Linked DNA regions of Homo sapiens. The protein of the gene in region 3 interacts with the protein of the main gene of each other region in a pairwise test. Each region holds a gene or a part of one and is shown on either strand. Other genes may lie near its edges.

Region 1 (3,500 bases), on a different chromosome or scaffold from region 3:
CTAAAAGTATGGGGCCATTAGAATCTTGTCCTGCCACCACTTTATGAGTATTTATTATTAAGAGTATATGCCATCCTCACTGGTTATTTTGTACCGCTCAGGGAACACATGCCCACAATCTTGTCCTGCCACCACTTTATGAGTATTTATTATTAAGAGTATATGCCATCCTCACTGGTTATTTTGTACCGCTCAGGGAACACATGCCCACAATCTTGTCCTGCCACCACTTTATGAGTATTTATTATTAAGAGTATATGCCATCCTCACTGGTTATTTTGTACCGCTCAGGGAACACATGCCCACAATCTTGTCCTGCCACCACTTTATGAGTATTTATTATTAAGAGTATATGCCATCCTCACTGGTTATTTTGTACCGCTCAGGGAACACATGCCCACAATCTTGTCCTGCCACCACTTTATGAGTATTTATTATTAAGAGTATATGCCATCCTCACTGGTTATTTTTGTACTGCTCAGGGAACACATGCCCACAATCTTGTCCTGCCACCACTTCATGAGTATTTATTATTAAGAATATATGCCATCCTCACTGGTTATTTTTGTACCGCTCAGGGAACACATGCCCACTTTGGAGGAATTCTTTGAAGAAGCCATTGAACAGGCAGACCCTGAAAATATGGTGGAAAATGAATATAAGTAAGTATGCTCCTCATTAGCTCCTTTTAATTTTCTTCAATTTGTTTCTTCCTTAGGAATTGTGTGTATACTAGAAAGCCTCTTAAGAGAGGCAGTAGATAGAATAGTGCTTTTTCTCTTAGGTGAGTTTATGTTCCAAGTTCTTGTTAGTACACATCCTGATTTCAAGGATTATTCCTGTTAACTAAGCATGACTTGGAATCACCCTTGTTTCAAAATATAAGAAAAAAAAAACTCCCCCTGATCCCCATTTCTCTCCAACTATTAGTTCTGTTCTCTCTACCCTTCAAAGCACAGTATCTCACAGCAGCTGTTAACCTATCCTGTTCCCCTTAATGTTTTCTTCTCTTGGCGTCCATGAGAATCCAAATCCATGGTTCTTCTGTTTGCCCTTTGCCCTCGTTGCCCACTCCACCTCACATTCCATTTCAGCCTCCTCATCCTCTGCCTAACTCAAATTTTGGAGTAACATCAGGAATTGGTCTTAGCCTCTTTATCTAGAACCTTCTGGGTGACACCGCAGTCTCATGGCTTTAAATAGGAATTGAAGAGTAGTGGTTTAAAGGCAAGAGGCCTCTGGTCAGAATGCATAGGTTCGATTCCCTCTACCACTTACTTACTAGGCAACTAAGGCTAATTTAATTATTAAACCGCCAGTTCCCTTTCCTCATCTGTTAAATAGTAACAGTACCCATTTCACAGGGTTATTCTGAGGATTAAATAAGACAGTGCACTTTGAACCCTACAGGGCATGTGGTTAGCACTCAGTATTTGTGACTAGTGTGACCCTGTGACCAGAGTTGTTAATTACTGTGACCTCTTAACTAATCTCTCTAGTTGTGGTCAGTGCTCCATGCATCAGCCAGTGATCTTTAAAATAATTGTCCAAGTCTAATCTGCTTAAAATCTCCCAGTGAGTGCCTATTCCAAACTCCTTCCCAGGGCCTAAAAGACCTCCTTGGTCTGGCTCATACTCTCCTGTGTGGCCATGCCTCCCCTCTGCTTTAACCACAGCAGGCCTCTTGGTCCTGTCTTTCCCTTTCCTGTCAGGACCTTCACACTTTACTGTCTCACTTGCTTGAACCACTTTTTCCCCAAGGTTGCCGTGGCTTAAAGTCCCCCTGGCTGGGAAGCTCTTCCCCTCCCTGGTCTCCTCTTTTGCATTCTCGTGGTTTTTATTTCACGGCACTTACCACTATCCAAATGAGAAGGTGGCACTTACCACTTTCTCATTTCTCAAGTTTTCCTCATCCTTATGAAATTGTCTTATACCTTGTGTGTTTATCACTAGCAATGCCTGCCTTACTGTGCCTCAGGTACTCTCCACAGCTACTGAGTGCCTGGCTCAAAAGTGTTTGTCGATTGAAAGAATATTAATTTATCACTGTTACATAAGACTAGGTGGACTCATTCCTAAAGTGATAGTTCAAATTATTATCTCCAAAGAGGGTTTTGTGGAGAATAAGAAAAATGATGTGTATAATTGACAGTGAATTTTGAAAATGCCTAAAATAATCAAATTGTCTAAACAGATATGTCAGAGAGGAAGGCTCTTAACTGTTTAGGCAAAGCCTCACAGCAGGTGTTAACTTGGGAAGAGTCCCCAGTGTCTATGGGTAGTTTTTGTTAAGTCTTCAGTGGTACCTGCACATCCTAAAGGTAACATATGCTTATTTATAAGAGGTGACCAAATAAACCAAATTGCTATTCTTAGGGGAGGAAGAGACTTCCAATCCAAAACTCTTAAATGGAATAAATTTGTGGTTTGGTTTCTTCCGCAGCATTGCATATTTCTGACGCATTATCTTTAGAATTTCTCTGCAGTTTGTTTCTCACCTGATGGTATACCACCCTGATCATTGTTATACTTCATTAGGGAACAGTTCATGGATTCCAAATAGCTAGATGGATGATTCCTGTTGTATACGTACTGCATCCAGCCAGTACTGCACACACTTGTTGACTTGTTAAAATTAAACAAAATGAACGGAAACTTTGAAAATGTGTTTGCTGCATATGAGCCTGCCTCTTCAGGCATTGTTGGTTCCTGTGATTAGTTACATGTGCATCTATTGGTTTGTTATTATCAGTGGACTACATACTGAAAAGTTCTTTAGGAATAAGATTCAAATACAAAGAATGGCACTTTGAGCTATTTACCTTAAATACAGAATTACACATGGCAGAACTGAGCAGAAGGGAATACAGAAATACAAAGCTATAAATTACAAGCCTGACACCTCTTTTTATAGGGCTGTGAACAATTCAAATTATGGTTGGAGAGCCCTGAGACTATTAGCACGGAGAAGCCCTCACTTCTTCCAGCCAACCAACCAGCAGTTTAAAAGTTTACCAGAATATCTTGAAAATATGGTAATAAAGCTAGCCAAGGAATTACCGGTAAGTACCATAGATCAACTTTTCATACCCTTTAGTTGACATCTTCTTTAAAATTGCTGTCACTATGTGAGCAAAAAACTGACTTAATCATGTGAAAAACCAGTGATCCACAAGCTCCCATGTTTTAGAATGAGGGAAAAACACATTGGAATATACATTTACAGGAAATACATGAGTTGATAAAGAAGTAACTGATAATTTTCTGTACAGCATGTAATTTAAAGTTCAACAGGGCTGTGGGTGCGGTGGCTCACGACTGTAATCCCAGCACTTTGGGAGGCCGAGGCGGGTGGATCATGAGGTCAAGAGATTGAGACCATCCTGGCCAATATGGTGAAACCCCGTCTCTACTAAAATATAAAAAATTAGCCAGGTGTGGTGGCACGTGCCTGTAGTCCCAGCTACTCAAGAGGCTGAGGCAAGGGAATTGCTTGAACC
Region 2 (3,500 bases), on a different chromosome or scaffold from region 3:
ACATTGAAATAGACTGTGAAATCCAATTCTAAGATCCAATACTGACATTTTTTTCGGAAAGAGTGACTTACATGTGCTACATTTGATGGCCGGTTCATCTGCTGAATGTCAGCATTATTAGTAATATTCCTCAGTGTCCGTACAGCTGGACTCCAGGTAGCTATCATTTCTGATCTTTCAGAACTTTGGAGGTTTTGTCCAGCAGCCATTAAATTACCCCGGACCTCAGGGGGCAAAATGTTACCTGGGACGGGTGGGACATTGGCACACAAGTTAATCAACCCAGGCTCCTTTCCCTGAGGCAGCCTGCGTTTTGCTGCAGCTAACTGTGGGACTTCGGCCGGGGTCCAGTTTAAATTTCTCTCCTGTTTTTCCGGTGATGAATCTGAAGAATCATCAAACATTAATTCCCCTTTAGATTTTTCAGTGTTGGATTTAGGTGAAAACTGCTGGTCACCTGAAGGAGACCCTTCTTGAGAGCTGGCAGGGCTTGACTTCTCATCTGTACTACCCTCATTCTGAGAATCTTGTTCCTCATTTTCTACTTCCTCCTCCTCTTCCTCTTCCTCTTCTTCCTCTTCATAAATAATCAGACGAGGATGATAAAATGCTTCGTCCTTTTTGGTTTTCTCTGATACGCAATCCAGAACCCAGTCAGGAGTCACAATTTTAATACTTGCTCGCTTTAAAGCACATTCGTATTTCTCCTACGAGGAAAGCAGAAACACACACAAAACAAAGCTGTAAATTTTATCACATTTCCTACAATTACGCATTTTAGAAAAAACTCAGTCAAGGAATGCAGTTGAAATGTTGAGCAACTATTATTACAATTTTATACAGAAGCAACGTTTGATCTTTTAGACAGAGGACATGAGGCAAAAGTGAAAAGGAACCATACAGCAGTGATCATAGGAAGGTCTCACACCTGTAGCAGGAGTCTTAAAAGACTTGGCTGAAAATTAACTTTTTAAAATGATATTTTAAGTACAAAAGTAGAGCTAGTAATCCTATGGAAAATTATGAAATGAATAATTGCTACCTAAGTTTTTACTGATTGATAATATTTAGAAGCTTGGTTTTCCATGACAGTTAGTAAAGTAACAGCGTGGCAGAGTGCCGCCAATGCATCACGTACACTCATGGAGCATGGCTGACTTGGCTGACTTGCATAGGACAGCTCTATTCAAGATCCAGTATTTATGGAGCTCATGCTATATGCCAAGCAGCACTAAGGGATGGAGACACAAAGGATGCAACAAGTCTCTGACCTAACAAGGCTCACAATTTGGTTCTAAAGAGATATTAAATACGGAATGCAAATACAATATAAAACCACTGCTGAATGATGCAGTAACAGACTGGAAGGGAATCTCATCAACATAAGCTGGAGGGCAGGAGGAAAGCCCCGTTGAAAGGTGAGCTTTGGCTGGGGCACAAATGATGACAATTTGCACAGTTAGAATGAAAGCAGAAAATACAGCCCACTGGAAAAGATGTGTCCGGAGTAGTATGTTCGGCAAGCTAACAGAGACCTCTCCTGTGGTAAAGGGTGTAGAATGTGGAAGGCACAGGGGAGGGAATAACAAAGAAAGAGGAAATAAATAAAAAATGTTAAATAAGAGTAATATGACAATAAAGTAACCTTAAAATAAATGAGTTGTAAATTTGGCTGTGCTCCTAAAAGCTTAACACATAACAGCAATTCTCTAGCAAACACATAATCAGGGCCCTAAACTAAACTCCGTGTCCTGTTGCAGAGCCCCAAGGTGGCATTTGCAATTTCTGGGTGGAATAAGAGTCACACGCAATAGGGATGCGGGGCAGCAGCACAGAGAGGACAGCTGTTGGTCATTCGGTCCTGGCAGCGAACGCCAGGCATTGCCCATCTGGGAGATCCTTGCAAATAGTGAGCTCTGCACACAGCTCAGTGACTTAACTTGTGTTTGTGAGTTTGTTCTTTCTCAAACCTTTTTAAAATATAAGAAAAACCTAGTCATGGGAGACACCCATGAATAAGAAGCTAAGCAAAGGAAAATGAATGTAATCATAATCACACTGACTAGAAAGGACCACGATTAACATTTTTAGGGTATAGTTTAAATTTATTTTTGTTATAAATATATATGTACATATATTAAAAGGGCAAAGGGAAAAAACATATAGTCATAGTGAACAAATACTTTATAATGTTCCTTTTTCACTTAATATATTGTGAACAACCTCTTCCTATGAAAACATGTATACTTTTATGCTTTTGTTTTTAACTTTTTAATGTACATTTTCGAACACAGACCAAACTTTTTAATGTACATTTTCGAACGCAGACCAAACTTTTTAATGTACATTTTCGAACGCAGACCAAATTAGAGACTAGTGGAATAAATCCCTTGTATCTGTCACCCAGCTTTAATAACTGGCAATCTTTTACAAATCTTGCTTCTCCTGAACTTTGTTTACGGATCTCAAATTGATAAAGACTTTCTAAACCACCATAATTATCATAGCAGCACAATGAACTATGATTCACCTCATCCTCAGGCCCTATTCAGATCTCCCCAGTAGTCTCAAAGGCTTTTACAGTTTCCTCTTCGGTTGCACAGCTGTGTACCTTAGTTCATCCCCCAGTGTTAGCCACGTGGTTGTTTCCAGTGTTTCACTACTATGAAAAACTGCAGTTATATTTTATGACAAATTCCTAGGTTTTGGTGTTGAGGTTTGAAAAGGAATAGATTTAAGGCTTCATATCTCTAACTACACTTCCCTTCCCAAAAAGGCTATTCCAATTACACTTCCAACAGCTATGTAAGAGTACATCAATTTACCTATACCCTCGACAATAAAATGTCTTATTCTTTACCCTAAAAAATCATGCTGTTCTTAAATATTTAAAAGCATAAAATGTTATATAGCTCTCCCCAGATGATAAATTTCTACTAGAGATTTTCAATTTCTGGACTACCCATTCCAGAAAAACCCAAGTTATTTTAGGAAAATATGAAGTCCAGGTACACAGCAGAATATTTATGAACCAATTAATACAAAAATATCATCTGCTTGAATAACATATGACTATATGTAATATGGTTTACATATGATTTTTCCAAGTTAAAAAGATATCTGTTGAAATAGTAAAATATGAAAAAAAGTTATTTTTAATTGTTTTAACAAATACCAAAAAACAAAACAAAACTACTGCCATGAAGAGGAGTCACTGAAAATTTTGGATATGAAAAAGATAATTTCACACTTAAAAGGCTGGGATCCAGTAGGCTCTTGAGTTCCTAGTTTGTATAGAATGCTGGCATTTCACATTTCAGAAATAACTTGACTATTTCCTGTGGAAATCTAAGTAAAACACTTAGGTAAACAGCCTTACTATATTTCACTCAAGTTTTCTCTCGCTTTTCACAAGATAGGTAGTTTTTAATCACTGAAAGACAGTAACTGTTTAAACAAAGATGATTTAAGAGGAAAGCAATGTTTAGATGCCTTTGCCT
Region 3 (3,500 bases):
CTGGGATTACAGGTGTGAGCCACCGTGCCCAGCCCACTTTTATCTTATTTGTAGATTGGGGCTCACACAAAATTTAATTTCAAAAATGGTTTCCACTGTTAAAGAGCCATTATACTAGGCTGAACTTACATCCATAAGGCTATGTTGCACCCACAGGGCTGTGTTAAGAAGCCAACTATTGCCGGGCGTGGTGGCTCACACCTGTAATCCCAGCGCTTTGGGAGGCTGAGGTGGGTGGATCACCTGAGGTCAGGAGTTCGAGATCAGCCTGACCAACATGGATAAACCCCATCTCTACTAAAAATACAAAAAAAAAAATTAGCCGGGTATGGTGGTGCATGACTGTAGTCCCAGCTACTCAGGAGGCTGAGGCAGGAGACTCGCTTGAACCTAGAAGGCAGAGGTTGTGGTGAACCAAGATGGCACCACTGAACTCCAGCCTGCGCAACAGAGCCAGACTCCGTCTCAAATAAAAAAAAAAAAGAAGCCAACTATTTCTTATAGATAGTAGGTGACAACTATCAATAATCACAAAAACTTCAAATAGGAAGAAGGAGGGAATGCTAAAGATCATTTCAACAATGACAGCAAAACAACAGAAACTGCCATTTATTGAGGAATTATTGTGTGCCAGATACTGTGCTATGCTTATATGCAGTATCTCTAATTAAATCTTTACACTAACTCTAAGAACCTTAGAAAATTAAAACTTGAATAGAGGCCAGGCACAGTTGCTCACACCTGTAATCCCAGCACTCTGAGAGGCCTAGGCGGGAGGACTGCTTGAGGCCAGGAGTTTGAGACCAGCCTGGGCAACATAGCAAGAGTCAGTCTCTAGGGAAAAAAAAAAAAGGAAAGAAAAATAAATTTGGATAGAATCACATCACAGAGCTGGCAAGCTGGAGAGCCAAAATTTATACTCAAGCTTTTTAAGTCTAGACCCAAGCTCTTAACTACTATAATACACTATCTCTTATGACCTGGTTCTAGTACTAACTAGCTCTGTAACCTCTTTATACCTTAATTTCTTCACTAAATGGAAGTAACGGTACTTTATAAGTTTGTCATGAGAATTCATTGACTTGATCCAAGTGAAATGGTTAGCATAGAGACTGGTACATGGTAAATATCTGATAGATGTTAGCTGCTAATAATATAATTATTGTCACTACCCCAAGTAACTGGGATGCAAGCACCTGGAGCCAGTTGAAGCTTCATTATTTTATAAAAATGCTAAGACCATGTATCATTAAATTTGAAAAGGGTGACACACCTAAAATATAAAATTCCTTTTTTTTTTTTTTGAAACAGAATCTCCCTCTGCCACCCAGGCTGGAGTACAGTGGCACCATCTTGGCTCACTACAACAACTGCTTCTCAGGTTCAAGCGATTCTTGTGCCTCAGCCTCCCGAGTAGTTGGGATTAAACGTGTGCACCACAACGCCTGGCTAGTTTTTTTATTTTTAGTAGAGGTAGGGTTTCACCATGTTGGTCAGGCTGGTCTCGAACTCCTGGACTGAAGTGACCCACCTGCCTTGGCCTCCCAAAGTGCTGGGATTACAGGTGTGAGCCACTGCACCCGGCCCAAGATTCCCTTTTTTTAAAGAGCCTCGGCAGAATCCTAAATCTAAAGCAGCACCTCTCTTTCCTTTGTCTCACAACTTTTGTAGTACCAAAGATAATCTATACAAAGGTATTTATAGGGATTAAATAGCCAAAACTTTACTGGAAAGGTTTAAAGCATTCTGGTAAAGGAAAGCTTGTTTTTTAAAAAAAAATTCACAACAATTCAGAGACTTCCTCTGTGTGTCTGGAAGATACTTGCCCTCAAGTACGGTATGTAGCTGAAGCATACTTACTACAAAAATTGGTAATGCCTGCTGTCCTGTATTCTTGGAGCCTCTTGATTTCCCTTCGGAGTTCAAATTCCACTGTTTTCCCCAAAAGGAATGAAGGAAAAAATTACAAAAACAAAAGCAACATTAGTGAGCACTTTTGCTATTGAGCATTTTCATTAATTCTGCCTTATAAGACTAGGGAAGTTCATTTGGAGAATCCTACTCGTTGGTAACTTCTCATTAGAAATTTTACCCAAGAGCTGAGGAAAACCTACTCCAGCTATCTTCCAGCTGCTGTCTCCAGATGCAGCAGCTGGAACTGTCTTCTAGAAAACTTAGTGAAATGGTTAAATTCATTTGTCTACAAAAGTAACAATTTTTTTTTTCTTTTTTTGAGACAGAGTCTCGCTCTGTCGCCCAGGCTGCAATGGCATGATCTCGGCTCACTGCAACCTCCACCTCCCGGGTTCAAGCAATTCCCCCTGCCTCAGCGTCCTGAGTAGCTGGGATTACAGGCATCTACCACCACACCCGGCTAATTTTTGTATTTTTAGTAGAGATGGGGTTCTGCCATGATGGCCAGGTTGGTCTCGAATTCCTGACCTCAGGTGATCCACCCGCCTCGGCCTTCCAAAGTAGCTGGCATTATAGGAATGAGCCACCGCACTGGGCAAAATATAATTTTTTTAACAACCAAGTTTCCCTGCTCTAACTATCTTCTATTAAAAGTTCTACAAATCATTCTAATTTGGCTGCTTTTGAAACAGAGAATGAAGGAAGAGCCTGGACAATCCATGGGGTGTAGTGTTTTGGAATGACACATAAACCAGGGGTGTGTCCCAAACTGGGACAGGAAGTAAAGGATCAGTCACCTGGTACAAACCACACAAAGAATGCTAACCAAACAAGGTGTTTGGTGAGGACAACCAACCTGGCTCAGATAAATGTCTGCAATGCTATGTAAGAAATATTTTCACGGTGAGAATAAGGGCCTTAGTAGACTACCTTCCCAGAACTAAACTTAGAAGCCACATACACAAATGTCATGATGAAAGGTACAGAACAAGCCAGAGTCCATATTATTTTAACAATCTAGGCCTTACTGCCATACCAACATATTTTGTTTTGAAACAGGGTCTCACTCTGTCGCTCAGGCTGGAGTGCAGTGGTGTGATCTCAGCTCACCGCAACCTCGGCTACCCGGGTTCAAGCAATCCTCCCACCTCAGCCTCCAAAGTAGCTGAGACTACAGGTGTGCACTACCATGCCTGGCTAACTTTTGTATTTTTGTAGAGATGGAGTTTTACTATGTTGCCCAGATTGGTCTCGAACTCCTCGACTCAAGCAATCCTCTTGCCTTGGCCTCCCAAAGTGCTGGGATTACAGGTGTGAGCCACCACGCCCGGCCTCATAACAACTTTTAATTTTTTATAGTGAAAAATCAAATGGTAACTATGTAGAGCTCTCACAGAAATACCACAGAAAGGCAAGAGATCGATGGAAGTACTATCTCCACAAGCTATCCATCTCTGTCCTCATTTTTAAAACTACTTTTAATACTAAAATATTTATGAACAAAATAAAATGATGTCTGGGATTTGCTTCAGAATAATCCAGTTGAGGGCAGGAGGGAAGAGTGAGTGGTAAAGATGAAACCAGAC
Region 4 (3,500 bases), on a different chromosome or scaffold from region 3:
AACTGACCTACATAAATAATTTACTCCAAACAAAGTCACAACTTTTATGAAAACCTTTTACTCCATGTAAATGCACTCCTTAACATTCCTGGGCATGCATCTAACCTAATGAATTGAACATAGTCACCAGTCAGAAAGGAAAATTAAATGTGGAGATATTTCTAAATCTCACAGAATCTGGCCTAAGTACTGTTCTTGTGATTTTGCCCAAACAGTATCACCACAAGAAAATCCTGTCATATATTAATAAGCAAATATGAAAGTAAGAATAATAATTCACTTTATCAATTGATATTCAGTTTCTAAGAGCAAATATGTCTTTTCCATGAAGCCAGGGACTTTTGTCTGTCGTCTGGGAAATACTCTATCCCATAACACTGCCTGGCATCTAGTATGAAATATTAGTGGAGGGTGAATAAACCACAGTGGAACAACAGAAAAACATAGTTCACATACAGTCTTTGTTTTAATGTTTATTGGTAGAAACAGATCTTCAATGCATACTTTGTGTTTATATAAACTCTACATTCTCTTAAAGGTTTTCGTTTTGTTTTCACTGGAGATTTTTAGCCTCCAAGTGAACTTAACATATTGCCTATGCATCTGATTCTTTATAGACTTTTAGATTTTAAAACTAAATTTGAGAAACCATGCATACTGTATACCTTATTTAATAATCCAAAGAATTGTTTGCACTTTCAAAAAAGTTACAAAAAGGCTGAACACAAGTTAAATAACCTATATGATGTAAATTTTCCATTTCTGAATACTTTTTCAGTATTATATATTGCTTGCTGTCTAATAAGTTAGATTGTCAGAGACGCTTCAGTAAATTATCTCTACTTTAAAATTATATCTGAATCCCCTTTCTCTGAGATGAACTTGCCAATATTAAACATTGTGCCATATGCAGTATTAGCCCAAAAGCTTAAATAAGAACCAAACTTGTAGACTGAATATTTTAACCTTAAAATTATATACCTATATATACACCTATGGTATGCTGCATATTAAATTTAACATTTCAAGTAACATATATATAGCAAACATTCAGCCAAATACTCTTTCATGAAAAGATACTGTCCTTAAAATAAAAAGTTAATGAAAAGCTTATTTAGACACAAATGTCTAGATATAAGTACTAAGCCTATGAAACTTGAAGCTAAAGTCTGCTGTACTATTAAGAAAAAGAAGATTGATTCTTAACCTACTGAATTGTGCAGATACAAAAGTGCTTAGCATGACAAAATTACCAAAATAAAAACATTTTAGAGGTTATTTGGTTCTAGCAATATTAACTATTCTGTATTTCTGGATAATTTAACATTTGTATTTTAAATTTTATATAAATTTCTTTTTAACAAGTTTAAAAAAGCACACGAAAAATAGTTCAAACTATATATAATCTGTTATTTTTCATCCTGGTTAGCTAATCACAAATAACTCAGCAAAACAATGCTTGAACATTCAGTTCTACTAAAAAACAGTATTTGAGTAGATCCCATCACCTTACCCATTGTTTGCTATGTTAGACCCTAAAACAGGCTGCCGACAGATCGGACAAGTGCAATTCTCTGAGAGCCATCGGTCAATACAATGAATGTGAAATTCATGCATGCAAGGTAATTGCCTGAGCTTGTTTCCAGTTACATAGTCACTAATACAAACACTACAGATTTTACCTAGTTCACTATCAATACTGTTATGCTCATAGTGCCTGGTGGAAAGATTGTCAATCTGCTCTTTGGTTAAACCACGTATTCGATCATCATCATCACTTTCATTTAGTAAAAAAAAGTGAGCAAGGCGAAGAATGGGTAGTGTTCCAGTTTCAACTAAATTGTTTGGATTTCGCAACTGCCTGCCACCCCTACTGTCACTGTTTCGAGTATGAGGCTGGGTGGTCTCGTTTTCACCATGCATTTCAGTGCTGTCTCCTTGGGCCTGCCTGTCTTGAGAGGAACCTTCCCTGTGCTGGCTCCTGTTGTTATCTGTACCTAAGTTACTCAGTTCTGAGTGCATGTCTGGTAAATGCTGGCCATTTCTTTGAAGTTCTGACTCAGAATCGGCCTCCATTAGAGAACTCAGTTCTCCAAACCCAGTCATGATCTGCCTTAAAATTGACCGAAGAGCCACTGATGATGGCTCAACAAGCTCATTCTCAGAAATCCTACGAAGAGGAACTGTTATGGTACTAACATAGGTTCGAATACCTGACCGCTCTAAACGAGAAATGGTTCGGCGAAAGCCCCCACTATTGCTTTCAATAGTGACTGTATTTTCTGCTAGCCCTACTCTGGATCGAGTTCTATTTGCAATACTATCCCGATCTCTATTTTCTCCAGGACGGATCCTTCTCACTTGAAGGTCCAGTGTGATTGTTGGATGTCGTCGTACAGCAGTTGAGGATCTGCTGGATTCTTCTCCTTCTTCTACTGTTATTCTTGACACAAGCCTTGAATTAGAGAATGGGGTATATGCAGTACCTCTGCGTTCTCGTTCTCTATCTTGCTCTAAAAAGACTCGAGTTCTACCTCTCCTCCTAACAGATCTTCTAGTGGTTTGCTGTACTGGTCTACTTTCCCTTTGGGAATTATGATAAACAGTGCCACTCTGTCTCTGAATTGGTGAACGGCTTCGACTATTGGAAGTAGATCGTAATCTTATTGGCTCTAATCTTTGGTTTGTATTCCTCACTGTAACATTACTTCTAGCCCCATTTTCCCAAACATGTGCTGCTCCAAACCGTTGCCCCTCCCTTTGCCTGAGTTCACTACCACCTGATTGGTTTGTGTGACTACTGAAATTAGTGCGTGAAGCGTTAGCTCGAGGAATGCCAGCTGCTCCCCCAATTCCATTTCTTAACCTTCCCAATGTTGAGAAAGATCCTTCAGCTGGATTTTGCCCCCTTGAAGCAAGCCTAGTCCTTGGAATGTTGGAACTACTACCATTGAAATTCACTGAGGTTTGGCTTCTTGTTCGCCTAGCCACAGGACTAGTTGACCTTTGTTGCCTATTTGCAGTATGATCTCTGTTACTATCTGAAAGTGGAATGTCTGTATAATCTTCTCCATGAATTTCAAATCCTCTATTTTCATGATTTACGTGGATTTCCAAACTAAACCGAAACTCTCCATTGTTCGGGTTTGTTCGACTCACAGCTCTCCAAGTTTGGTTCCCATTTTGTCCACTTCGAGTTGCATTTCCTGTGCGCCGAAAGGTGTTCAACCATTCTAGAAGAGAATCTTCATGTGAACTTTCTCTAGGGACTTCTGAGTCTAGAAAGCAAAGCAAATCAACTTAAGATCAATTCCTAAGACACACCTTACAGCTTTATTGAAAACTTGTAAGAAAAACAAAGTTTGTAATAAATTAAAGAACATCTGTGGATTTTAATGAATGAAAGATGGCAAAAAGACAACTTTCTAAAAGAAAAGTATATCTACTATAAGCATATTATAAAAATTAAATTACTATTTACATAGTTACAAAGCTTTAAA
Region 5 (3,500 bases), on a different chromosome or scaffold from region 3:
TGGATATAATACAGGTCCAAATTTGGAATCTGCTCCTTCAAGGTCCCCTGTTGGGGTTTTAGGTTAGGATTCTACCAGCTACTCTGGGAGAGGAGAAGAAAGGATTGGGCTCCCAGATATTCTCCTCATGACTTCTGCTATGACAGTCCTGGTTATATTCCTCATATCCTGTGGCCCCTGGTGCCTCCTCCTTCTGGGTCATTTACAGTCCTTACGTTGGTCACTGAAACTGTTGTATTGGCTGATTTTCTCTTTTCTCTCTGGCCAGGAATGACATATATCCTTTAGACTAGAGAGTGAAGTCATAGAATCTTCCGTTTTGTGTGTCTGTGTGTGTGTGTGTGTGTGTTGTTTTGCTGCCTTTTTGAATGACATTTAAGTGTTTCTGATGTATAGGAAATAGTGAAGATTTGAATTAGTTATATACATAAAAGGGTATTTGCAGCTGAAATGGCACAATTAAGAAGGAGATTGTTTCCCCAATGTCATTGTTCCATCTTAATCTTTTGTAATTTAAGCATGAGGGAATCAGCTACAAATTCAGACCAGTAATCATTAGGAATTAAGCATTATGTGGACATTCTCTGAGATGAGTATTTGCAGAGTAATTAATAAGGCTCATATGTTTTAAAGGATTTCAAAATTATGTTTTAAGAGATTTGGAATTCCACTTTTTTTTCTGAAATCAATTATTGGATTTTTTCCCCACTTCCAGGTTTCTGGTCTTTGGCATTTCAATTTGGAATTAATTGTATAGTGCAGGAAGATTCTCTGGACAAATTGCCTTAGATGGAGGGACATTTGAATCAGCTTGTTGAACTGATTGGATATCTTTGATATGCCAAGCTGTCTGCAGGGAATAGAGCAATGTGGAGATGAGGGAGAATATTTCTTGACCTCAGGGGGTTCTAAGTCTACTAGGGGAGGCATAGGTAGACTAACTTAATAACACCAGGTGGAATGAAATGAACGTTGACTAGGCATGTTCATATCATCATGGGGAGCCAGAGGAAGTCTTATGGGAGGTAACTTCTGAACGTGGGCCTTTTGAAGACAGAGATTTTGACTTATAGAGAATTTAGGAATGGTCATTTTGCGCTGATGGCTGGCGTGTGAGGCAGACAAGATTTGTGAAAATATGGAATACTGTCAAGTGGTTGCTTCCTCAGTGCTCTTGGGGACTCAGCAGGACACCCAAGAATGTGGGTAGGTTTTGAGCCTTTGAGACGTGTGCGCTATGCTTGCAAGCTGTCCTGCCTTGAGTAGGGCTGGAACAGCCAAACCAGCTGGACATACAGTTGAGCCCAATTTCTCTATATCCTGTCCTTCATTGAATCTACGAGCCCATCAGTTGCAGGACACATCATTCTTTTATGGACTTATAAGAAAAAAATGAGCTGATGGCATTTTGGCTTTCATCAAAAGAAAGAAAAAAAGGAAGAAGTGATACCTGAAAAAAGAGATTTATTTATTCCTTCAGTATATATTTATTTTAATTAATTAATGAATTTTAAAAAGTTAATTTTTAAAGGCTCCTTTTTTAGGGCAGTTTTAGGTTCACAGCAAAATTGAAAGGAAGGCACAGAGATTCCTCATATATCCCCTGCCCCCACACATGCACAACCTCCCCCATGATCAACATTCCCCAGCAGAGTAGTACATGTGTTACAATTGATGAACCTACAATGACACATCATTATCACCCAAAGTCCATAGTTCACATTAGGATTCACTCTTGATGGTTGGTAGACGTTCTATGGGTTGGACAAATGTATATGACTTATATCTACCGTTATAATATCATGCAGAGTATTTTCACTGCCCTAAAAATTCTCCATGCTCCACCTATTCATTCCTCCCACTTCCGAATTCTTGGCATCCACTGATGTTTTTACTGTCTCCATAGTTTTGCCTTTTCCAGAAAGTCATGTAATTGGATTCATGCATTACGTAGCCTTTTCAAACTGGCATTTTTCACTTAATAATATGCATTTACATTTTCTCTGTATCTTTCAGTGGCTTGATAGCTCATTTGTTTTGGTGCCGAAGAATATTCCATTGTCTGGATGTACCACAGTTTATTTATTCATTCACCTACTGAAGGACATCTGGGTTGCTTCTAAGTTTTGGCAATTATGACGAATGAAGCTGCTAGGGGCTAATACTTACTGAGTAACTACTATGTGCCGGGGACTGATCTTGGTTCTGGGATCACTGTGGTGAGCAAATTAGGTATAACTCCTACCATCATGCTGCTTGCTAGCAAGACAAATAGTCACAAAAGAGTAACACAATTGGGTTAGTTATGAAAAGTGTAAATGTTATGAAGAAATGATCCCCTGAGATAAAATAACCAAGGGACCTAAATTAGAGGATTAGCAAAGGCCATTTGAAGTCAGTGAAAGCCTCTCTGAGGAGTTGACCCTTGAGTCAAGCTCCAAGGAATGATGAGAAATGTGAGGAAGAGCATTCCAGGCACAAGGAAGAGCCCCTTCAAAGGCCCTGAGTTGGGAAGAGCTGGAGAACAGGGAGCAAGGGTGAAAGCGGTGTGAGAAGCTGGAGCTGCGGTAGAGGCCAGCTCACGGGGGACCACTTTTGGGTTAGGGACTGAGACTTCATTTTTAAAAAGCGCTGGAAATCTACTGAAGGGGGTTTGAGCAAGGGGCATGATCTGACCTGCACTTTTAAATGCTGCTTCTGGCTGCTGTGTGGAGAGCCAATTGGACTGAAGCGGGAGGAAAAGTAAGACTCCAGTTAGATGGTGCTAACTTAGGTCAGGGGCTGTCAGTAGAGAATGAGAGAGAGGGAGGTGGATTTGAGTTATACTGGGGGCAGGGATGCCATGCTGAACAACTCCAGGGGCACCAGTTACTTCCCTGTCCATCCCTTGGGCACGACATGTCCTGCTTGGGGCAGAATCATCATGACTTCATTGTAAGGAGTTAGGGGAAGAGTCAAGGACGATTCCCAGCTTTCTGTCCAACACCTGGGTGGTTGGAGGTGACAGGAAGTTAGTGAGAGGCAGGGGGCCTGTGGGGTGTGCTCCAGGCTTCAGTATTGGACAGCTGAGTTGAGCTGCTTGTGCGACAAGCAAGTGGAACTGTCATGGAGGCAGTGGGACACATGCTCCCAGAGATCTGGGCTGGAGAAGGAAACAAAGAGGGATGTTGGCCAGCCATTTACCAGGTTCTCTAAATGCTTTCCTTGGGGTAAGTTAGTTCACAGAACATAGAGCTTTTGGTCCAAGTACCATAGTTCCCAAACAATGCTTGCATTTACTGCTTTATTGTCTGTCTTTATTGAGATTCACTAAGACACAAGGTCATAGGGAGATTATTTCTGCATCTTTTCCAGATCCAGCAATCCATTCATTTTTATCTATCTATCTATCTATCTATCTATCTATCTATCTATCTATCTATCTATCTATCATCTATCTACCTACCTATCATCTGTCTACCATCTCTCTCTCTCTCTCTCTTTCTCTTTCCCTCCTTTTG
Region 6 (3,084 bases), on a different chromosome or scaffold from region 3:
TGGAGTTGGTATGATCTGCTGACATTAGTCATTCTGACCATGGTATGGAGAATGAGTAGAAGCAGTAAGACACTTTAGGAGGCTATCTCAGTGGTCTAGGTGACAGATGATGGTAGGTTACACTGTGAAATCATAATGAAGAATAAGTGGTGGCATTCAGGGCATATTTTGGAGGTAGTGTCTCACCAGACTTGCTAATGGATATAGGAGGGTGAAAGAAAGAACTCAAGAGTAGCCCCTAAATTTTTGGCCTGAACAGCTGGTTGGATAGTGGTGCCTTTTATTTTGGGAAGTTTGGGGGACAAGCAGGTTTGGGATACTGTAAATTACTGCTATTGAGAAAATAAAGTATCCCACACATCTTAGTCAAGATGCTCCACATCCTGCTCCACAGATACTCCACATTGAAGTGGAGATGTTATGTAGGCATTTGAATGTATGAATCCAGAGCTCAGGGGAGACATTAGGACCAGAGATAAATATTTAGGAGTCAGTGGCATCAAGATGGTATTTAAAGCCATGCATCTCTAGGAGACTACTTATCAATAGGGTTCAAGGCCACATAGCTAGTAAGTGATAGTATTGGAGTTCAAATTTGGATTTTTACCAACCCCCAAATTTATTCTGCCAAACCAGATTACTGCAACATATTTTCACATTTATGTAGGCTAGCACATATTTTCTCAAAAACTTTATCACTGTGGGACACAGTAATAATTAGCTCGTAATTATGATGACATTTTCTTGTTTTAGTAATAGTGCATTAGTAATTATTTTAATATAATGTAAATTGGTGATGCCCCATTTATAGATCATTAGTAGTGGGGTAGATTTCATTTTGTTGTTAGTAATATATAATTACAGAGAAAAAAATTCCTAGAAATTTTTATGTTGAAGCCATCCTTATGATTTTGTCTCCTTCAGAAATCTAAGTTACTTTAAATGTGGTAAAATTAAAGTTGTGTCTTGTTGTTGATTTGTGATTGGGTATCATTTTTTTGGTCCTATCACCACAGCGAAATCCTTTGTGCTTTGACAGCATTTTGTTTATGCATCTATTAAAACACTTAATAAATTGTATTTATTAAAACAACTTTATAATTTATGTTTCATGTACATGTCTTAGAGTATTTTTCTTGTTTTTATGTCTAGCATTTGGTATGGTTTCTGGCACATTGGAGATCTGCTATATTTAGTGAGAAAAGTAATGAATTAAATGAATATGATCATTACATCTATATTATTTTAACACACCTAAATGTTGTTACTAAAGAAAGCAAGTCACACAACTAGCAAATCATATTTTTTTTCCATATAGCAGAAACTCCAAGAAAAGTTATATCAAGTTGTGGTAGGATTTGTTTCTTACGTGGCTTTTTTCTTTTAAGTTGATGAATAAAATGATTTTAAAAAACATATCCACGGGGGTCTTTCAAGTATCCACAGGACATTTGTTCCGGGACCCCCACAGATACTAAAATCTGCAGAGTTCAAGTCTCTTATATAAAATGGCATAATTGCTTACGTAAACTTAATGTATTGAGAAAGAAAGAAAAAATGGTGCAGTGTTTGCATGTAATCTATGTACATCCGTATATTTTAAATCATCTTTGGATTACTTATAGTACCCAATACACACAATCTAAATGATATGCAGTAGTGTGATCTCAGCTCACTGCAACCTCCACCTCCCGGGCTTAAGCCATTCTACCACCTCAGCCTCCCGTGTAGCTAGGACTATAGCCAAGCACCACCATGCCTGGCTAATTTTTGTATTTTTTGTAGAGATGAGGTTTTGCCACATTGTTCAGGCTGGTTGTGAATTCCTGAGTTCAAACAGTCCGCCCACCTCAGCCTCCCAAAGTGCTGGGATTACAGGCATGAGCCACCATGCTTGGCCTATATTGTTATTTCTAATCTTTTAAAATATTTTGGATCTGAGGTTAGTTGAACCTACGAGTATGGGACCTGTGGGTGAAGAGGGCCAACTGTGTTTTCTATTGTAAAAGTTAAATGCTACTTACTCACATTACTCTCATTTCTACTTTTAGGCCTACTGAACTTGACGCACTGGTATTTGGCCATCTATACACCATTCTTACCACACAATTGACAAATGATGAACTTTCTGAGAAGGTGAAAAACTATAGCAACCTCCTTGCTTTCTGTAGGAGAATTGAACAGCACTATTTTGAAGATCGTGGTAAAGGCAGGCTGTCATAGAGTTATGTGTTAGTCTCAGGAGTCTTAACTTTTGAAATATGTTTTACTTGAATGTTACATTAGATATTGGTGTCAGAATTTTAAAACCAAATTACTGCTTTTTGAAACCTCAAATTATATAATGTATCTTATGTATGTGCTTTATATTGTTATTTGTGTATACATTAAAATAATTCTGAATTATTTAATCTGATATGTTGTATTCTGTATCTTGAAATTTTTGTTTCCTTGAAACATGCATGCATTTAAAAATAAAGCTTAAACAACTGTATGGATGTTACATTTACTTTCTTTTGATTTTTCTGAAAGTCATTCACTGAATTTTACACATGTGGAATAAACAGTGTCTTTTCTAAGGCAAGTAATTTGTGTTACATACTCCCAAGATTCCCTTGCTAGTTACATGGTGAAGCAGATAATGGGAATAAACGTTCTTAACAAGTGTGCACTTAGAAAATATGGATGGTTTTAAGGTAATTAAATTTTGGTGCAGATTTGACATTTAAGAACATTCTTTATATAGAGACTTAATTAAAAAACATTTCATCAGAGCAGCTGTGATTTACATTTGATAAAGGAAAAGTTTGAGGAACCTTTTTTTTTGAGACAAGAACATTTTAATAATGCTCTTTTATTCCTTTGTGGGGAAGGGAAGATAGTTTTCACAAAAGTATTAACAGGAATTTTTATGTAAACACTAAGGATTATATGTTGTGTCCTTTCCAAATTTTCTCATAGTTTATATCTTATAAAACCAGGGATGCTCTGAAGAGACAGACGTAAAAAATGATTTCTTAAAAATGTCTAGAATAATAGTACTTTTATATTTTCTTTTTATGTACCAGGGAATTTTAACTTATT
Region 7 (2,981 bases), on a different chromosome or scaffold from region 3:
ATTGATTTCACAACCTACTATTGAGACCCACAATCTAAGAAATTCTTGATTTAGGCTCTCCCCAACCTCACTCCTCTCACCCATACCACCCAGGTCCCCTCCTTATGAAAGGGCAGGGTTTCTCCTTCATATCCCCATTTAGTGAATCTTGAAACTAGAGTCCTGACCACAAAATGCAGGTGGGGGGTAAGAACATGCTTAAAAACAACCACAATCACAACACTGCCTCACTTTCCTCTCCCTCCTGGCTTCATCAGCCTTTCCGCTTATTCTTAGGAGACTCCCAAGAAACCTCGGCACTCTCTCATCCCCAGGGCCCTTCCCTCTAGGACCTCCTTCCCCTCTGGGCTTCTGACCTGTCTCCGGGACCGCAGGGCACATTCCTCCAGGGTCTCAGCAGCCTCCAGCTTTCCCTGGCGCCTATACAGAGCTCCCAGGTTTCTCAGAGTAGTGTTCACTGTGGGGCTGTGGTGAGAAAGAGACCAGAGAAGGAAGAGAGAATGAGTTCAGAAAACAAAACATTTGTCTTCCAAGCAAGACAAGAGGAAAAAAAATAAGAAAATAGGAGAGGGAACAGAGCTAAAGCTGAGGGAAAGTCTACGGGAGGAAGGGAAAAGGTCTGGGAGGCTGGGAGCAGGGACTGGATGGAGGGCATCGGAGGCCAAGCTGGCTTTTCACTGTCAGCTCACCTGCTCACTTTGCAGGCCTTGTACCAGCCTCCATACTCAGCATAGGGTGTCCCACCCTCATGGTGCCGGCTCTGCAGGACAGAGAGAGGCCAGAAAGAAGGGCAGGGAGAGCCAAATATAAGAATACAGAGATGCTGAGATGCAAGGTGGCATGGGGCTAGGGTGCAGGCTGGGCTGGGGAGGACACCATGCATCTGGGGCTGGTGCTGGGATGGGAAGTGAGAGTTGGGCTAATGCAAGGAGTAAGACAGAGACCCCGGTAGCCTTGAGCTCCCCAGGCTGGCCCCCCTTCCCCCCACTCACTTTGCTCATTTCCTCCCGCTCCTCTGCATGCATCCAGATGGGCTTGTGGTCATCTAGGGGTGATACATGGGGTGGGGAGGTTAGAGATGGGAGCTAGACAGTGTCGGAGAGCCAGGACCCAGAGGCTGACAGGCTGGACTGAAGGGGTCTGGCTCCCCCTGGGAACCGCTGTGGCCTAACCCCCGACCTTTGGTCTGAATTTCTTTTCTTCCCCACAGCCCCTTCCCCAGGCCCTCACCACTCACCATCCACAGACCCAAACTCCTGTACATGGGCACGGGTCAGGATCTCTTTGTATAGTGTCTCAGCCTCAGCATATTTGCCCTGTTTCAGGTAACAGGAAGCCTGGAGGACAGAAAGGCAAAAATACAGGAACAAAACATGGAGGGAGGCAAGGTCTTTTTTTTTTTTTTTTTTTTAGACAAGGTCTTCACCAGGCTCAGGGAGTTCCACTTCTCAGTGTCTCTCTCACTTTCCCCAGAGATCTTTCTCACACCTCCTTCTCCAGGTGTAGGGTCAAGGGTATTCCCAGCCCACTCCCAAGAAGCTGTGGAACTTCTATAACTGGAATGAAGCAGATCCTTCATCCGCAAAGGCAGCCCCAGACATGAGCACAAAGTTGATGAGAGCAGTGTGCCAGACTGTGATGCTTCCTGACTCTAGGACCCAAGTGGCCTCTCCGCCTGCCCCCCCTCCCCCCACCTCTGTGCCCCCCTCTCCGTTTCTTCCACCTACTTTGTCCCTCCTCCCATACCAGGTTGTTCTTGGTCCGGGCTACATTAGGGTTGTCCGGCCCCAGCTGCCCCTCGTAGATGGCCAGTGCTCGCTGGTAGTAGCGTTCCACGGCCTCATACTTGCCCTGGTTTTGGCACAAGAGGGCCAGGTTGTTCAGCTGTTTTGCCACATCTGGATGATTCGTGCCCAGGACCTGAAAGGGAACAAAGGAGTGGATAAATGGCTATGATAACATGTGTGTGCACAAGCACACGTGTGTTTGCATGTAGGCACACACATGTGGAAAGCAGAGGAAAGGGAATGAAGGAAGAGAGAACAAAGCAGAGATGGGGGTGAGAAAAAAAAAGTGAAGGAGGAGGGTTAGACCAGAGGAGCCATGTAGAGAAGGGTCACAGCGACAAGAGAAGAAGGGAGAGAGGGCATGGGTACCTTTTCTCGAATCTCCAGTGCCCGCTGGCACAGAGGCTCTGCCTCCTTGTACTTGCCCCTTTTGCCATAGAGCACAGCCAAATTGTTGAGTGTGGCAGCCACCTATGAAGACAGGCCTGTCCCCATCAGACATTTGGGTTGCAAAAGACCTATGGGAATCTGAGGTTCCCCACCTCCCAGCAGGGCCCAACACTCACTGCACAACTCTAAGAGACAAAGTCTACTACCCTGGAGCCAGGGGCTGAAGGGAGGGGAAATTGCTGAACAGGATGGCTCTGAGGCTAAGGGACAGTATCGCCCTCTAGGGGATTTTAAGAAATTTCTGGAGGTGTTTTTTTTCTTTCTTTTTTTTTTTTTTTTGTTGTTGTTGTTGTCACCATGAAGATTACCTTTGAGGAGGCAAGAACGCTATAGATGTTCTGCATGTGTGGGACAGCTCTGCCAATTTTTTAATGTCCTGCCAGACATCCAAACGCTAAATGTAAACATTGATATTTGATGGGATATCAAGACAGGAGTATGATTTCTGAGATACATCATCCCTGCCTATCATATGTCATACCATAGGGAATTATTTTCACACAGATCACATTCAAAAATAGCTTTTTGGCTGGACGCAGTGGCTCACGCCTGTAATCCCAGCACTTTGGGAGGCCGAGGTGGGCGGATCACCTGAGGTCAGGAGTTCGAGACCAGCCTGACCAACATGGAGAAACCCCGTCTCTACTAAAAGTACAAAATTAGCCAGGCGTAGTGGCATGTCTGTAATCCCAGCTACTCGGGAGGCTGAGGCAGGAGAATTGCTTGAACCCGGGAGGTGGAGGT

What was found.
Region 1: the proteins of TADA2A (region 3) and THOC1 interact in binary tests that used the Homo sapiens proteins (3 or more experiments, as listed by UniProt).
Region 2: the proteins of TADA2A (region 3) and PAXIP1 interact in a two-hybrid assay, tested with the Homo sapiens proteins (one large-scale study listed by BioGRID).
Region 4: the proteins of TADA2A (region 3) and RNF6 interact in a two-hybrid assay, tested with the Homo sapiens proteins (one large-scale study listed by BioGRID and IntAct).
Region 5: the proteins of TADA2A (region 3) and ARNT2 interact in a two-hybrid assay, tested with the Homo sapiens proteins (one large-scale study listed by BioGRID and IntAct).
Region 6: the proteins of TADA2A (region 3) and MTX2 interact in binary tests that used the Homo sapiens proteins (3 or more experiments, as listed by UniProt).
Region 7: the proteins of TADA2A (region 3) and KLC4 interact in binary tests that used the Homo sapiens proteins (3 or more experiments, as listed by UniProt).

The regions. Positions count from the first base shown.
Region 1 is NC_000018.10:216,048-219,547, reverse strand, and holds part of THOC1 (THO complex subunit 1), read left to right. Parts: intron 1-578; coding exon 579-662; intron 663-2,914; coding exon 2,915-3,062; intron 3,063-3,500. UniProt on the Homo sapiens protein: Component of the THO subcomplex of the TREX complex which is thought to couple mRNA transcription, processing and nuclear export, and which specifically associates with spliced mRNA and not with unspliced pre-mRNA.
Region 2 is NC_000007.14:154,975,625-154,979,124, forward strand, and holds part of PAXIP1 (PAX-interacting protein 1), read right to left. Parts: intron 708-3,500; coding exon 72-707; intron 1-71.
Region 3 is NC_000017.11:37,465,886-37,469,385, reverse strand, and holds part of TADA2A (transcriptional adapter 2-alpha), read right to left. Parts: intron 1,933-3,500; coding exon 1,861-1,932; intron 1-1,860. UniProt on the Homo sapiens protein: Component of the ATAC complex, a complex with histone acetyltransferase activity on histones H3 and H4. Required for the function of some acidic activation domains, which activate transcription from a distant site. Binds double-stranded DNA.
Region 4 is NC_000013.11:26,212,315-26,215,814, forward strand, and holds the end of RNF6 (E3 ubiquitin-protein ligase RNF6), read right to left. Parts: intron 3,279-3,500; coding exon 1,510-3,278; 3' UTR 461-1,509; downstream 1-460. UniProt on the Homo sapiens protein: E3 ubiquitin-protein ligase mediating 'Lys-48'-linked polyubiquitination of LIMK1 and its subsequent targeting to the proteasome for degradation. Negatively regulates axonal outgrowth through regulation of the LIMK1 turnover.
Region 5 is NC_000015.10:80,407,382-80,410,881, forward strand, and holds part of ARNT2 (aryl hydrocarbon receptor nuclear translocator 2), read left to right. Parts: intron 1-3,500. UniProt on the Homo sapiens protein: Transcription factor that plays a role in the development of the hypothalamo-pituitary axis, postnatal brain growth, and visual and renal function. Specifically recognizes the xenobiotic response element (XRE).
Region 6 is NC_000002.12:176,335,442-176,338,525, forward strand, and holds the end of MTX2 (metaxin-2), read left to right. Parts: intron 1-2,051; coding exon 2,052-2,223; 3' UTR 2,224-2,584; downstream 2,585-3,084. UniProt on the Homo sapiens protein: Involved in transport of proteins into the mitochondrion.
Region 7 is NC_000006.12:43,069,631-43,072,611, reverse strand, and holds part of KLC4 (kinesin light chain 4), read right to left. Parts: intron 2,259-2,981; coding exon 2,157-2,258; intron 1,921-2,156; coding exon 1,747-1,920; intron 1,338-1,746; coding exon 1,238-1,337; intron 1,046-1,237; coding exon 993-1,045; intron 761-992; coding exon 690-760; intron 466-689; coding exon 357-465; intron 1-356.